Regions from separate parts of the Homo sapiens genome. Here region 1 is linked to region 2. The links come from fine-mapping of genetic effects on gene expression. Tissue or cell type: tibial nerve. Region 2 holds a variant in brackets; the other region holds the start of a gene. All regions are shown on one strand. Distances are from middle to middle.

The links. PIP is the estimated chance that this variant, and not a neighbour inherited with it, causes the effect.
Region 1: SH3GL3 starts here. The variant in region 2 is fine-mapped to the expression of SH3GL3 in tibial nerve (GTEx, PIP 0.96).

What each region holds. Positions count from the first base shown.
Region 1 is chr15:83,443,050-83,451,153 of GRCh38, reverse strand. It overlaps SH3GL3 (SH3 domain containing GRB2 like 3, endophilin A3), which reads right to left and starts at 3,813. Exons shown (of 9, transcript NM_003027.5): 1 at 3,576-3,813. The coding sequence starts at 3,620. RefSeq lists an enhancer at 3,958-4,117.
Region 2 is chr15:83,506,839-83,514,942 of GRCh38, reverse strand. The region is part of intron 1 of SH3GL3 (SH3 domain containing GRB2 like 3, endophilin A3); the gene reads right to left. Among named protein-coding and RNA genes, the nearest start is that of SH3GL3, 64 kb to the right of the region's middle. The variant G/A (reference allele first, on the strand shown) is at 4,580.

The DNA.
Region 1 (8,104 bases), 64 kb after region 2:
CAGCCATAAAAAATGATGAGTTCATGTCCTTTGTAGGGACATGGATGAAATTGGAAATCATCATTCTCAGTAAACTATCGCAAGAACAAAAAACCAAACACCGCATATTCTCACTCATAGGTGGGAATTGAACAATGAGATCACATGGACACAGGAAGGGGAATAACACACTCTGGAGACTGTGGTGGGGTCGGGGGAGGGGGGAGGGATAGCATTGGGAGATATACCTAATGCTAGATGACACTTTAGTGGGTGCAGCGCACCAGCATGGCACATGTATACATATGTAACTAACCTGCACAATGTGCACATGTACCCTAAAACTTAGAGTATAATAGAAAAAAAAAAATTAAAAAAAAAAAAGAAAATCTATAACCTTAAAAAAAAAAAAAAAGAAAAATATCCCATTTTAATAAAGGATAATGCATATTAGAAAAAAAAAAAAAAAGAAAAATTTGGGTTCTAGTCTCAAACGCTGAAACTTAGAATTAATTAAATTTTTTTGTTAACTTATATTCTTCTCATTTTAGCATATTTCTTCCTCTTTCCTGTTGGTCTCCATGTGCTGCCAAAATGATGCATAATCCCCAGGGTTTACGAGTCTTCATTCTCTGTAAAGTAGGGGTTTTTTCCCAGAGATAGGGAAGGTATCAGGAAAAAAGGAACAGTTAACCGGGTTATAGCTAATTTTACCTCGCTTATCTTTCAGAAAACTATCTCAGTTTGCCATGGTCCTGGATCCCTTCTCTGTAAAAGGTCCACTTTATCATCTTTGTCTTACTCTGAAATGCTTAACTTACTTAAGAATTTCAGCACTGAGATGTATACATACACACACACCCAGAGACACAGAGACATATTCGTATCACTTTATTGAGATATATTTCACATACCATACAATTCTCTTAAAGTGTACAATTCAGTGGTTTTCAGCATATTCACAGAGTTGTGAAACCATTGCCACAATCATTTTTATAACAGAAACATAGCTTCTAAATTCCCTGAGTCATCATACAGATAGAAACCAAGGTCCAGATGGGTTAAGTTATGTTCCCAAGGTTACAGAGCTGGTCAGTGGCTGAGCCAGACCTAGATCCCTGGAAATTATTTTAGCCATTGACATCATCTGGGGCTCCCTTCCCCTGCCCCAGGTAAGTTCTGTATGAATTAAAACCTGCTGTTAAAATGTTGTCTGAGAAAAACATCTGGCATTTTTTATTATTGAGCTCCCTCATATTATATTAAACCGGTCTGATTTCTCCACCAAATTGTTGCATTGCAAGATTTTTTAGAAAGACTTCTAGAACATATTAAAACATATCTACTGAGTACTTTTAACCACAAAACATGGCTATGAAGCCCAGAGAGAATCTGTGATGCCTCTCCTTTCAGGTAAAGTCATAAATTATTTCCGCTCATGCGAAAAAAAAAAAAAAAAAGACTAAATAAGACGTTCTGTTCATTTCATTTTTAATGTACTGATTACAGGTAGTTAAACCAAACTACCCATGACTAGCAAAATATTTCTCCAGTGCCAATAACTTCCAAGGATTTCAACCATTCATTCTGGTTACTGTCAGAAACCAACTTAAATCACCCAAGGGCTTACGTTATCTCTGAGATTTGCTTATCTTTGAGATTTGCCCCTGTGAAGTCCATACCCAATAAAGGAAAAGTTTTCAAAAGAGGAGGTTCATTTCCTGCCAGTGCTAAGGAAGCCAATGTAACAAGTACAGCCAGCGATTACTCTGGCACTGCTCTGCTCTGCTCTGCTCACAGCAGCACTCGGCCTCCTGGCTGTACCAGCTGAGGACACTCCACAATACCTAGCTCACTGAAGCACTTGTTGATTGCTCCTGCCTTTAAATGTCCCCCTTCCATGATGGTCTTCTCTCTCCTGTCATCTACGAGTTCTTTCTTTCCTGTGTTGTGCCACCCCAAAATTTCATCTATTCAATAAATATTTATTGAGTGGTCACTGCTCAACAATTACTGGGCTAAACATTGTCCCTAAATGGGGGTGCTGTCTAGAGTCTGCCTTTAACTCGCTGTGCCTTTTCTCACTTTTGTCTACACATACATTTTTAAATCTCCGCTTAGGCTGGAAATCACCAAAAATCTGTAGCTCCAGTACCAGCCTCACCCCCTGAGCTGCAGGTCAGGATATGCACCCCAACCCAGGCCAGTGACATGTGAATGTCCCAAAGACCCCTCAAAGTCCCTGGGTTCAGTGGTGAATCCATCATCTCCACCCTCACCTGAATAGCCTCTCCTCCAGGGCTCCTTAACACCTTGAATAGCACCACTGTCCACCCAGTGCCCCCAGCTAGAAACAGCATCACCCAGTTTCCATATGGAAAGAGTGTGAGTGAGGGGACAGCAGTGCCTTTCAGCCTGGAACTGGGGCTAGAAGAAGAGAATCTTCTAATTGCAGTTGCTTTCTATGGGCCAATTTGTGGGAGAAGCAGGATGAGACCTCACCACAAATGTGGACGTTGAATGAAATCTGTCTACCCTGGCTCTAGCAAAATGGGGGCTGGGGTTGCGGGGAGAGGTGGTGAGAAGCAACAGACCCAGCGGTGCTGGTGGGGAACAGGTTTTACAACGTGAGCTCTGCCATAGCTGGAAGAGCCTGCAATGTTGATGTTGAAAAACAAATTTGCTTGTCATCAACACACACACACACACACACACACACACACACACACACATCAATTTCATGTCTCCCCTCCTGTTTTCCTGTTTCCTCTGCTCAGAACGGCTTTCCTCCTATCATCCCACACCCTCAGCCATAATTCTTCCTCATACTTAATTCTCAAATGACATGTCTCCTCCTCCGGGAAGCTCTCCCTGACGCCCCCACTGTGTTATTTGTCATCCTCTGTGCGTGGAGGTGTGTCTAGCACTGTTTGTTTACGTGTCTGTCTCCGTGTCTCCCCTGCAGGCTGTCAGCTCTGTAAGAGCAGAAGCGTGATGCCCAGCCCCGGGCCGACACCGGGAAGACGGTGGGGAGGGGAAGGACCGCGGTAGAGAGCCCCAGCCGGGGAGCCGGGCACAGTCCAGACGGGGCCATTTCGATGCGCGCGCGGGGAGCTCAGCGGGACACAGCCAAGCGCCAAATACACAGCATCTCTGGAGGCGCCGGTGGCCGGTGGAGGATGGGCCCCCCACGAGGCTCTCCCAACCAAACGGCTGGAGACTCGGGGGAGGCCCTGCCGGCATCGTACTCCCTGTGGTCGTCCTCCCCTCGCGCGGGTAGGGGCCCCCCCACGCCCACTCCGTCTCCGCCTCCCGAGTCCCCGCGGCCGCCACCTCTGCCCTCCGCTCCGCAGAATCTCTCCGATTTACAACGGCCCAGGGCAGAGCCGGGGGCCAGGGAATGGGAAGGAGAAGGCGCCAAGACGCCGAGGAGAGAGCAGGCGGCCCCTCACCCCACCCTCGCGCCCTCCTAGGCGGGAAGAAATTGAGCCCCGAGAGAGGCCCTTCAGGGAACAGGAGTCCCAAAGGCCCGGGAGCCTCGGGGGGCCGCAGCCTCCGCGTCCCCCTCCCTCCTTCCCTCCTCTGCGCCTCCCTACCTGGCTGGCTTTGTGGAACTGCTTCTTCAGCCCGGCCACCGACATCGCGACTGCGACCGGCAGGGGCGGGGTGGTCTCAAGGCTCGGCTGGGCCACGCGGCCGCGACGCGCTCGGGGAGCGGGAGCCCGGGCCGGTCCCCCCGCGGCTGGGCTCCGCCGGGCCCGCCTCCCACGGCCACGGCCACAGCCACAGCCGCTGTCACACTCGCACACACGCGCGCACGCCGATGGCAACACTGCGTTCCAAAGCCCCTGCGCAGCCCATTGGCCAAGCCGCGGCGATATGCAAATGAAGCTGCTGGGGCCGCCCACGCTTCATTGTTGCGTGGAGACCTGGGCTACTTGAGCCGCGCAGAAGACCGGCCTGGGAAGCTGGGCGTGGGGATGTCCTGGGGGTCGGGGGAGTACAGTCACACAGTGCTTCTTGCTGGGCGCGGGACGATATAGATCTAGCTCTGAGATTGTCATGGGTACCGGGAGAGAGATCAGTTCTCTCTGCTTCTGTCTTGGTGCCGAACCGGCTTTGGCTCACAGGCAACATCGCCTCCCTCCGGCGCATTTTCGCTCGGTGTATGTTTAAGAAAGGAAGGCTCAGAAATGCGCCTAGGGAGGGACAACAAATGCAACTCGATGGGGGACCTGTGGTAGGAGGAAGCGGTCTGTGGGTGGCGGGCTTTCTTCTCTCTCCACGCGGTGCTCTGGGTGCAATCTGCTCAAATGATTTTGGTCTTCTGGGAGCCCTAGAGTTATGGAGTAATTTACTAATAAATACGGTGCTAGCTCACTTGGTGCTCTGAGCCCGCTGTCAACGGCACTAAAAGCAACCATCTCCAAGGTGCCATAAAGAGCTCGTTGCATATCCGGCGGAGTCCACCAGACCAGGAACCCAGCTCTCTCGGTAACCCCTACCAGCTGTGTCAGTTACAGAGTGTCCATTTGCACAGAGTCCAGAGGTCGACGCACTCACAGCTAAGCCCAGCCAGGGACATGGAGCATTGCGTTAACCTCGTGTTAGAGCTATCCCCAAAAGGTACAGCATCTTCGCTGAATCTGGCTTCCAAAGGTCCCGAGGATTCCCAAACCTAGAATATATGTTTGGCAACGCTTCACACTGAAAAACAAAAACATTTCCCACCTTCAGTCTCTTTTTGGGCCCTTAGCAGGTCCCATCTGGGGTGACGAGCAGTCCCTGTCTGCCCTGGACACTTCGGGTATATGCCTGTGCCCTGGTGTCCACCTGCCATAACATTTCTCCAGGACAAAAGTCATGCAGTTCCTCCCCTAGCTGTTAGCTCCCAGCGCCCAGTCGGGGCTAGTCCTAACCCTGACTTCATCCTAGTGAGGACTGGGCAAGTAAGTACACACCTCTCTGGGCCTTGGTTTCCTCACTTCTACTTGAAGCATGTAGACTGGAATAAACAGTGTTCCTCCTCTGATACTGGGGAAAAAATGCTTGAACTTAGTGGAGATCGTGGGATAAGGGCAGCCAGTCAGAGGGTTAATGAGCATGACTTGGGTGAGTGTTGTGGGCTTACCTGCCTGACACCAGCCACTGATAGATAACTAAAAAGTGTGAGGGTGGTGACAGCTGGGTCAGAATGGCGTAGCAAGATGACCTGTCCATACAACAGTTCAAATGCCTCTCAACAGTGGGCTTCACCGCAGGCCAACCACTACATAAGGCAGAGAGCCAGCTGCAGCTGGAGTCCAGGATTGGCAGGTCTCTCTTGTCCTAGGCTATTCAGGGCTGCTCAGCTTCCTCTTTCTCCATGCTCCAGAGAGGTTTAAATAGCACCGGTTCTATGGTACCTCCCCCTAGACCAATCCGGCTCTGTGCCCTTTGGGAGGAGGGGGGTGCTTTTTTTTCAAACAGTTTATTGGCATTTCCTCCACAGTCGTTAGTACATTCAAGTTTCTCACTTCAGTTGATTTTGGTAATTTATCTCCTTCATTAATCAAGTATAGAGTTGAAGATCATACTTTTTAAACTTCAGAATCTTTCATATACATTTTCTCCTTTGTAAAAGTTTTTGTGATTTGTCTTAATTTTTTCAGTGAATAGATTTATTGGAGGTTTGCTGATTTTATTGGTCTTTCAAAATATTTTTGAAGGTACTCATCATTGCTACAGATTTTTCTCTCTCATTGATTTTTCTTTCATTATTCTTACACATTCCTTCCTTCACTTTTGTTCAGAAGACTAGTGAGAGTTTGAGGGTTTTAACAATAGAAACTGACTCTAGCTAACATAAGCTGGAAAATATGTATTGGAGAAGGATGTCAGGCAGCCTGGAGATTCACAGGAGGGGTGTAGGGAACAAGGTGGAGGGGATGAGCAGGAATTAGGAATCTGAGCACTGAGATCCACAGGGTGTCCAGGAACAGCTTGATTGGGATATGCTGGCTCTGCCACTGAGCCCTGGCCATGGCTACCAGAATGAAGGCTGCCCTTTCAGGCAGTCACTCCAGCTGCATAGTAGCAAGGGCAGCATCTGATTGGTGGATTCACTCCATGGCAGATTTCCCTACTATAGGAGGAAGCTTCAGAGGTTAGGCAGCCAAATTTTATATATATATATATTATATCATATATTATATATATATAATATATACATTCTTTAATATATACCATGTTAGAGAATATATAATATATATTAGAGAATATATATAAAAATAATATATATAAGCAACAACAAATGCCCATTAAAGTGTATTTGGGTATCCTTAATCTCATGTCTTTTATTTATTTTTATAAAACTATAAATTTTCCTCCTGAGTATGGCTTTGGTTTCATACCTTGTTTTCATGAATGATATGGATCTCCTATTTTCTAAATAAAACTTGTCATTACAGTTTTGAGTTCCTCTTTGATCCAAATGTTATTCAGGATAATTTTTTAAAAAGCTTTTCTAGGCTGGGCATGGTGGCTCACGCCTATAATCCCAGCACGTTGGGAAGCCGAGGCAGGCAGATCACGAGGTCAGGAGAGCGAGACCATCCTGGCTAACACGGTGAAACCCCATCTCTACTAAAAAGTACAAAAAATTAGCCAGGCGTGGTGGCGGGCACCTGTAATCCCAGCTACTCGGGAGGCTGAGGCAGGAGAATGGCATGAACCTGGGAGGCGGAGCTTGCAGTGCGCCAAGATCGCACCACTGCACTCCAGCCTGGGCGACAGAGTGAGACTCAGTCTCAAAAATAAAAAAAATTAAAAAAATTAGCTGGTCATGGTGGTGCATGCCTGTAGTCCCAGCTACTCTGGAGGCAGAGGCAGGAGAATCACTTGAACTCAGGAGGTGGTGGTTGCAGTGAGCCAAGATGGTGCCACTGCCCTCTAGCCTGGGCGACAGAGTGAGACTCTGTTTAAAAAAAAAAAAAAAAAAAAAAAAACCTTTTCTAGGTGGTTTGATTTTTTAAAATTTATTCTATGTTAAATTCTAGACTTGTGATACTATCGTCAAATAACATGTCTTGAAAGGTTTTTTTTAAACATAGCCTGTCATGTTTCATTGTAAACACATATCATAGAGGTTTGAAATACTGTTCATTTTGTGTTTCTAATGTACAGTTTTTTAGTTCATCTGTAACAAGAGTGTGTATTCTACACAGCTTCTAGCTCAGAGGAAGATTTCCAACTCATGCTAGCTAGAGCCCCCTTGGCCAGCTCAAGGCTTTCCCCTTCACGTCACCATCACCCTTCAATCACTAAGGGCCCACAGCTCCTCTGTTTAGGGAAGGGGGGTACAAGTGTATACAAGTGTCCTGGACTGTTTGACAGATTTGTCTACATATGGAATGAAATTGATGGGGACTGGGAAGTGTCCTGAGGCACTGACACACATCCCTCTGAACTGAAGGATTTTTGGGCATTTGGTGGTCTTCACAAGTCAATGACAAGAGGGACACTGTGGTTGTCTCTGGCACTCTGCCAGATGGCCCATGTTCTGGCAGAGGTTTCAGTGTTCTCTTAAGCTCTTTTTCTTTTTTTCTTTTCTTTTTTTTGGAGATGGAGTCTCGCTCTGTCGCCCAGGCTGGAATGAGGTGGCACAAACTTGGCTCACTGCAACCTCCACCTCCTGGGTTCAGGTGATTCTCCTGCCTCAGCCTCCCAAGTAGCTGAGACTACAGGCATGCACCACCATGCCCAGCTAATTTTTTTTTTGTATTTTAGTAGAGACGGGGTTTTCCGGAGCTGAGGCAATCAGCCCACCTCAGCTTCCCAAAGTGCTGGGATTACAGGCGTGAACCACTGCTCCTGGCCTATGCTCTTTTTCTTGTGGCCTTTGACTCACCTCCAGGCCAGCTTTTGAGTCTAATGAGTATTTGCATTCCTTGTGTCTGGTTCTGTAGCAAGTGACTCATATCTATCTGGGGGGCATTGTTGGGGGGCAGAAGAATTCTGGGTAGGGGTTAGAAGGGGAGGGAAGCATGCTTATTAATGTTCAAAATATCCCATCATATATCTCATAAATCAGGTATGAGCATGTTCAAATGCTCTGTGTTCCAATATTTTTCTTTTTTTTTTTTTT
Region 2 (8,104 bases):
CTTGCTTCCATCCTCGCATTGCCTTCTCATATAAGTTATCACTCACAGGTCCTAGGGATTAGGACATGGACATCTTGGCGGTGAGGGGAATTTCCCAGCCTGACACGCCCAACAAGCAGAAGTCTGACCTATGACAGCTGCGAATAAGAGGAACCCACTTCTCCTTTGCTTAAATGTCAAGGGGTCAAAAGGTGCTCACAAACACCTGCCTCAAATGCAGTTTCTGTGTGAATGGATCCTAAACTGCCAAGCACTACCATTTATGCCTATAGATAGAGAAACACAACTTTTTTGCAATCATATCATCCTTTTAAACTGGGTAAGAATTCAAAGAATTTGCTTTTGCTTTTCAAAAAAACTTATTTTGAAATAATGTCTGGTTTACAGAGAAGTTGCAAGCATATGACAAAGAATTCCCCAATGCTACAAAGAATGCTCCAATAGACTTCGCCAGATTCCCTCAATTTTATCTCATTTATTTTATCAATTTTCTCTGTCTCTCTTTTGCTCCCTCCAACCCACCCTTTCCACCCTCTCTCTCTCTCTCCCTCCACTAAATCATTTTGAGAACAAATTGTGGATATGATGCCCCTTTTTCCCATAAACATTTCATTGTGTATTTCCAGTGCAACTTAGCTTCTAAGTGGGTTTGGAAAACAGAGGGCTGAATTGCCAGTGGGAAAAGTTTTTCAAGGGAGATGTTCTTCTTTAGGTCTGGAAATCCAAAGGAGACAAGTCCTTGTTCTGGAAAGTGGGGAGTGTCACATCTCATTATATTGCAAAAAATTATTTTTCACATAATATTATGCCAAACTCTAGGCACTGAGATTTTTGCCCTTGAGCCACTGATGAGCAAGTACTTATAATACACAATCTCTACCCATCCACTACAGGGAAGCTCAGTGAAACTAGCTACTGAACAGCACAGATGGAAAGAACAAAGCATGGAAAAAATCCTCATGGACTAGTTGTTTCTCCTTGTCTTTTCTATGTCCTAACCTAAAGTGAATTGAAACTCACTCTAGGATAAGAGCTATGCCATAGCTATCAGTGTTCTGCAATTTGTGTATATCCCATAAGCATTCATTTATGATGATTAGTCATTTATGATGATCATCCATTTACGATCCTTATTCATTTATGATTTTCTGCTCAGGTTGCTCTTGGGTTAGATGAAAAAATTCCATTCAGCAAAGATTTATTGAGCACCTACCATGCCCTGGGTAGAGTGGGAAGTAGAAATGAATGGAGGGTCATGATTTAGTGGGAGAGACAGATGCATCAACCACAAAGAGCAAAGCAGCATGAAGTACAGTCTGCGGTGGAGCATGAGGGAAGTGTTCTCAGTGGTAGAAAAGACTTTCTAAAGGAAGGAGGGCAGGGATGATGCCTTGAAGCAGCATTTGGGAAGTCTAGGAGAGGGTCAAGGGTTTTCCCAGATGAAAGAGAAGCCTGAGCCGAGGCACCACAGGATGCAGATGTCCAGCACGTCTAGGGACAGAGGGTGACACATCCAGTGTGGCTCAACAGTGGAGGGTTTGAGTGGAGTTGGGGCCTGAAAAGGAGGTGGAATAAGATCATGAAACCTCTTGACACCATGCCTTATCTTTCCATGGCCTTTATTCTGTAGCTACAGTTGAACTTTCAGAAAACAAATTTCCTTTTCATAGCCAAGTAATTAACATCCCACAAGTTAAATGCTCAAAACCTTGACCTCGTTCTAGCTCGATTAAAAAACTTCTCAAAGACCCTTCCAATCCCACGCCTCTCAGCTCCATGCTGTGATTAATGCATCACTAGTGGAAGGTAGGGCGGGAAAGTCATTGCAAATACACACAGCGGAAAAATACAGATTCACAGCAGGAAAAGTACAACTTTTGTGCAAAGCTGACCCAGACCATCTCATTATGCAGTCGTTGAAACCTGTCTGAAAAGGAGTATGTGGATTTGTCATGAGACCTATGTAAATATATTTCCAAAAGATTATTTTCAAATGGCTCTAAAGTTTAGAAGGAAAAAGAAAGAGATAACCTTTTTAAAATGTGGGAAGCAGGAACAATATTGCTGGCAGCTTATTCATCTAGTTAATGAGTACTCTAAGGGGTCCATGCAGAATAGCACCTCATCCGGAGGAAGCTGATAGGGAGAGGGAGGGAGGGAGGTGGCAGCCAGGCAAAGGTGGGGAAAACAGAGCGCTGACTACATTGAGAGTCTTGGAGGGGATGGAGGAGTAGGGAGGCCAGGGAGGCAGGGACGGGGAGGAAGGAAGAGAGAAGGAGGAGGGTGGAGGTTAGGGAGCGATGATGCTGCCCTACCACCACTCTGGCGCCTTTTGTTTGGCTCCCTTACAGGGGCAGACACAAAGAGGACCTTTCCAATTCTAATGTGCAGGAAAGCCCAATCTGAGAACCAGGAGTAGCTTTTCTGACACCAGGAGCAAAGAAAGCAGCGCGCTTCCAGGCTGTGACTGCCGCACAAAAGCAAATTCTTTGGGAATACCACAGGCACTTAAGAGACTTCTCACCCTAGGAGTAGTTTCGAAATGAAAACTACCCAGACCTTGCAGCAGCCAAGAATTAAACTGATATTAAATAAACGTGGAGTTGTTAAGGCAAATGAAAAGAGTATTAAGCACATTTTTGTCTTAATTGACTTAAACATCTTACACTATCAAGGAGCAAAATGGCAATGCATCTGTGTTACAGAAAAGCGATCTCACCCTCAGTCCCACCAAGACCTTGGCAATAAGAGTTCCAGAAGAATTAAAAAGTCACCCATTAATGGATAGAAGCAGGGATGGGGTCAAGTCTCCTTAAATAGCAGGTGGCATTTATCCCCCTTGAGAGGACCTGTCAAGGCCCCCCTTACCTTCTGAGGTGAGCTAGGTCTGAAGACCCTTGTCAATGCGAAACTCCCACTGCAGTGAGTTTATAGTGCTGACATGGTGCAAAAACTCATGGAGAGTGACTGTCCATCCAAGGCCTGGCTCCTTTTAGGTCCAGTATTGTTCCAAGTGTCAAACTCCCCTCTTACCCGGTATCCTGAAAGCTTGTGCAGCACTAAGTCCTGATACCATCCTAGCCCTGTCCAGGGTGGGGATGGTAGCAGGAAATGCCCAGGAAGCATGGTAAATGTCAAGGGTGTGGCTTCCTGGGAGCCAAGATGTACTGGGTGAGGGAACCAGCAGGTGCGCGGTACACTGGGAGAGAGAAAAGAGAGAAAATTGGAAATGTGATCCTGGAGACAAAGCAGCTGACTGAGATGCTGTAGAGCCCAAGAGAAATAGGAGTTTCTAGACTTTTAGATTTCATAAGCAGTAAATACCCGTAGTAGTAGTAATAGTGATTATTATTATTACCGTATACAAAGTGTTTTCAACTTTTTTCATTTCCCCAGGAAAGGACACAACCTTTTGAACTATTGCTGCTGTTTTCATTTTAAAAAGGAACTTTTAATACTAAAATTATAGGAAGAACATAATATCTGACGTCACGTAAATTCAGATTTGAAGGAAATTTACTTTTTTTCCTTATTTGTTCTTATTTTTTCTCATTTTGTTAAGAACCAGCGAACACTTTGAAGAAAGCCAAAAGTTTACATCTGGAGCTGGAGGGTTCTGTGACTGCACACCAGGCACTCTGCCAGCCCTACTTCTGCCTGTAGTCCTGCAGGTCACTTGCCAGAGGTGGTACTTTCTGCAAAGGGAAAAGCCTAAGGCACCATCATGGGGGTCCCAGGACCTACAGCATTCCTTTATTTAATCCGTTCTTCCGATTGGCCAACTTTCTTTTTTTTATTATTATTATACTTTAAGTTCTAGGGTACATGTGCACAACGTGCAGCTTTGTTACATATGTATACATGTGCCATGTTGGTGTGCTGCAACCATTAACTTGTCATTTACATTAGGTATATCTCCTAATGCTATCCCGCCCCCCTCTCCCCACCCCACAACAGACCCTGGTGTGTGATGTTCCCCACCCTGTGTCCAAGTGTTCTCATTGTTCAATTCCCACCTATGAGTGAGAACATCTGAGTGGCCAGCTTTCTTTTGGGAAAGCCCGAATGCCATACCCCTGCTTGGCGGTGGATATGCTCTAAGCAGTCCTTTGCAAACCCAGAGAAAGGATTAACTGATTGCCTTCCTTTTTCCACTTTGGCTGCCAGGAAGCTCAACATCAAATCTGAGGATCCACATAGCTGCTTCATGGACCCTTTTACATGTATATTGACACATAAATACACTCACACATGCCTCTACAAGCTTTGACTTTTCCATAAAATATTTATATTTTCTCTGATCATGATTTATGACTGTTATTTACATTGTATTTTTAATTTTTTGCAAGCTGCTTCAAATCTTATGTGGGACAAGGGAATAAATAACAACTTTTTAAAATTAGGACTATAGAATTTTGCTAAAGCAATTCATTGACAGGCAATGTCTGTGGCAAACACAATGTCTTTACATAATAAACAAACTGCAAAGCAAAAATTATTTAGGCCACTAGGTTAGACATTAGATTCCAAACTTATATAAGCAAAGCTAATTTTTCCCCCGAAATATGTAATATAGTGG[G/A]CCATCAGCTTAATTTAAAATTCACACAGCTTCCAAACAATAAGAGGCACTTTTCTCTTCCATGAACAAAGACGTTTTATTCATACATGAATAAAGCAAAGATTCTTTCTATTGTATCTACATGAAGCAATCCTGCATTTCTATACAAAATGAGGTATTTTGCACCAGGCAGAGCTATATTACAGAGTTGCTGTGCATTCTGGATGAAGTTGTCTGATGATGGCACAAGCATTGAATAACAAAAAGTACTTTGTATCAGCAAAAAAAAAAAAGAATCCTTAAGCCTTCCATGACACTCTCTTCTGTTTTTCCCTCAGCACAAGGCATTGATGGGTGAACACATACATTAATATATTCGCTTCGAATCTAGCACTGGGCATGCTCCCTAAAGGATGGCAAAAGTGTGTGGGCCCAAAGTGAAAGGACTAAATCAAAGAAATGAACTCCACACCAAACATATTTGCGCAGTGTTTTGGTTTAATTTTTCCAAGGGTATAATTTAAAATAGGCTTTGTGAAACTGGTGGGGGTGAGGGCAGGATTCTCTTCAAGGTGATTGTAAACTCTTTCAAGGCAGTAACCGGGTAATTTATACTTATTCTACAGTTAAATTCCTGAATTATTCATATTTCTGAATAATTAGGGAGGCGTCATAAAAATAGCATACTCTTTAAAGATCTTTGCCCTCTTCCTTTCTCCAGAAGTTTAAATCATCTTCTTAAAAGGGTAAATACAGTTCTTGTATCAGGAACCAGTACTGACCAACCTGGTAAATTTAACAGAAACCAGCATTTATCACACCAATAAAACTGGATTTGACATATGAAGTCTTAACCTGAAAACGAAGTTCTTCCTTTCTCCCACTATTGAGCAATAAATTACCGAGAAGTTCTGGTCTACTAAATAGTTAGGAAGAAGTGAGGTTGCAGAAAATATAAACCAGTTTAAAGCCAGAAAGCCACAGCAACCATTTAGAAGCAAACACGAACTTACGAGCTTCCTTCATCATAGTAGTCCTTGTCTATCCCCAGCCTCCGGTCCTCTCCAAAGTTGGTGGGACATCCAAGAACGCGCTCCCCAGATTCTGCCCTCACTCCGTGAGATGAGGCAGGGCATGCCTGCCCATTCCTCCCCTCCACGGCAGGTCAGCCTTCATTCCCCATCTTCTTTATCCAGGACAAGGCTTGACCAAAATGGCCTGTTCCAAAGGCAATTCCCCTGCTCTCACTTTTCTGTCCCATCACTTTCTCAAGAAAAATATGTATTTTTTAAATGTGTAGTTTCTTAATGCACGCTAAAATGCCCGATGTAGGTAAAAACATTCATTCCATAAGCCTTACCAATTGCTCAATGCACAGTAAGATCCTAGGTGAGGAGCGTTACAATCGCCTCTAATCAGTCTCCCTGCTTCTACCCCGGCCCCTCTAAAATCTATTCTCAAAGGAGCAACCAGAATGATCTTTTAAAAATGTAAGCCCAGCAGTGGCTCACGCCTGTAATCCGAGCCCTTTGGGAGGCTGAAGCAAGCGGATCACGAGGTCAGGAGATCAAGACCATCCTGGCCAACATGATGGTGGCCAACCAGATGGTGAAACCCCATCTCTACTAAAAATACAAATATTAAGTGGGTGTGGTGGCACCTGCCTGTAATCCCAGCTACTTGGGAGGCTGAGGCACGAGAATCGCTTGAACCCAGAAGGCAGAGGTTGCAGTGAGCTGAGATCGTGCCACTGCACTCCAGCCTGGCAACAGAGCGAGACTCCATCTCAAAAGAAAAAAAAAAGTAAGCCCATCTTGTCCCTACAATATTCCAGAACTCTGCAATGGCTCCTCTCTTCACTCAGTGTCAGTCTTTACACTAAGGCCCCATACAAACATCTGTCCCCTACTCTATCCCTCCCTAACCAACCTTGACTCCCTCACTCACTGCACTCCAGCCACACCCCTCCATGATCCTCGAACACCTCCAGCGTGTTTCTAAGGCCTTTGCACAGGCTTTCCCCTCTGCCAAGCATGCTTTTCCAGCAGATATCTACATAGCCGGCGTCCTTACCTCCAAGTCTTCGTTTAAATGTCCCCCTCTCAATGAGACCTATGGTGACCACGGTATTTAAAATTGTGCCTGGGCTGGGCACGGTGGCTCAAGCCTGTAATCCCAGCACTTTGGGAGGCTGAGGCAAGCAGATCACGAGGTCAGGAGATCGAGACCATCCTAGCCAACATGGTGAAACCCCGTCTCTACTAAAAATACAAAAATTAGCTGGGCGTGGTGGTGCGCACCTGTAGTCCCAGCTACTCCGGAGGCTGAGGCAGGAGAATCCCTTGAACCCGGGAGGTGGAGGTTGCAGTGAGCCAAGATCGCACCACTGCACTCCAGCCTGGTGACAGAGCAAGACTCCGTCTCAATCAATCAATAAATAAAATAAAGTAAAATAAAATAAAATTCTGCCTGGATCCCATATCCCACCTCTAGAACCCTTGATCCATTTTCTTTTTCTCCAAAGTAGTTACCGTATAATATACTCATTTTGAGCTTACCATATGATATACATGGATTTTGCTCATAGATATATTCCAAGCACCTAGAAATGTGTCTGGTACACAGTGGGTGGGCACTGAATAAATATTTTTTCAATAAATAAATGAATGAGGCCAGGCGCGGTGGCTCACTCCTGTAATCCCAGCACTTTTGGAAGCCAGGGCAGGCAGATCACCTGAGGTCAGGAGTTCAAGACCAGCCTGGCCAACATGGTGAAACCCCATCTCTACTAAAACTACAAAAATTAGCCAGGCGTGGTGACATGCACCTGTAATCCCAGCTACTCGGGAGGCAGAGGCAGGAGAATCACTTGAACCCAGGAGGCAGGGTTGCAGTGAGCTGAGATCATGCCACTTCACTCTAGCCTGGGCGACAGAGCGAGACTCTCTCTCAAAAAAAAAATAATAATAATAATAAAGGAATGAATACCTGGAAGATCCAAGATGAATCACTAAAAAAGTAATTAAAACCAACAAAAGATATCAGTAAAGATCATTCATTAAAAAGAAGTGTACACAGGCCGGGCACGGTGGCTCACGCCTGTAATCCCAACACTTTGGGAGGTCGAGGTGGGCGGATCACAAGGTCAGGAGATCGAGACCATCCTGGTTAACACGGTGAAACCCTGTCTCTACTAAAAAAATACAAAAAAATTAGCCAGGCATGGTGGTGGGCGCCTGTAGTCCCAGCTACTTGGGAGGCTGAGGCAGGAGAATGGCATGAACCCGGGAGGCAGAGCTTGCAGTGAGCGGAGATCGTGCCACTGCACTCCAGCCTGGGTGACAGAGCAAGACTCCGTCTCAAAAAAAAAAGCGTACACAAAAACAGGGTTTCAAACCTCAGTAACAACCAATCAGGAAATTTTTTTTTTTTTTAGCAAAAGAGAATGATTTCTATAAACAAAACCTGTTACGGTAAACAGATGGGGCAGAGCTGCGATGCTCCCCAGCCTTCAGCCACTCCTTGGGAGCCTTTATCGCTGAAGGA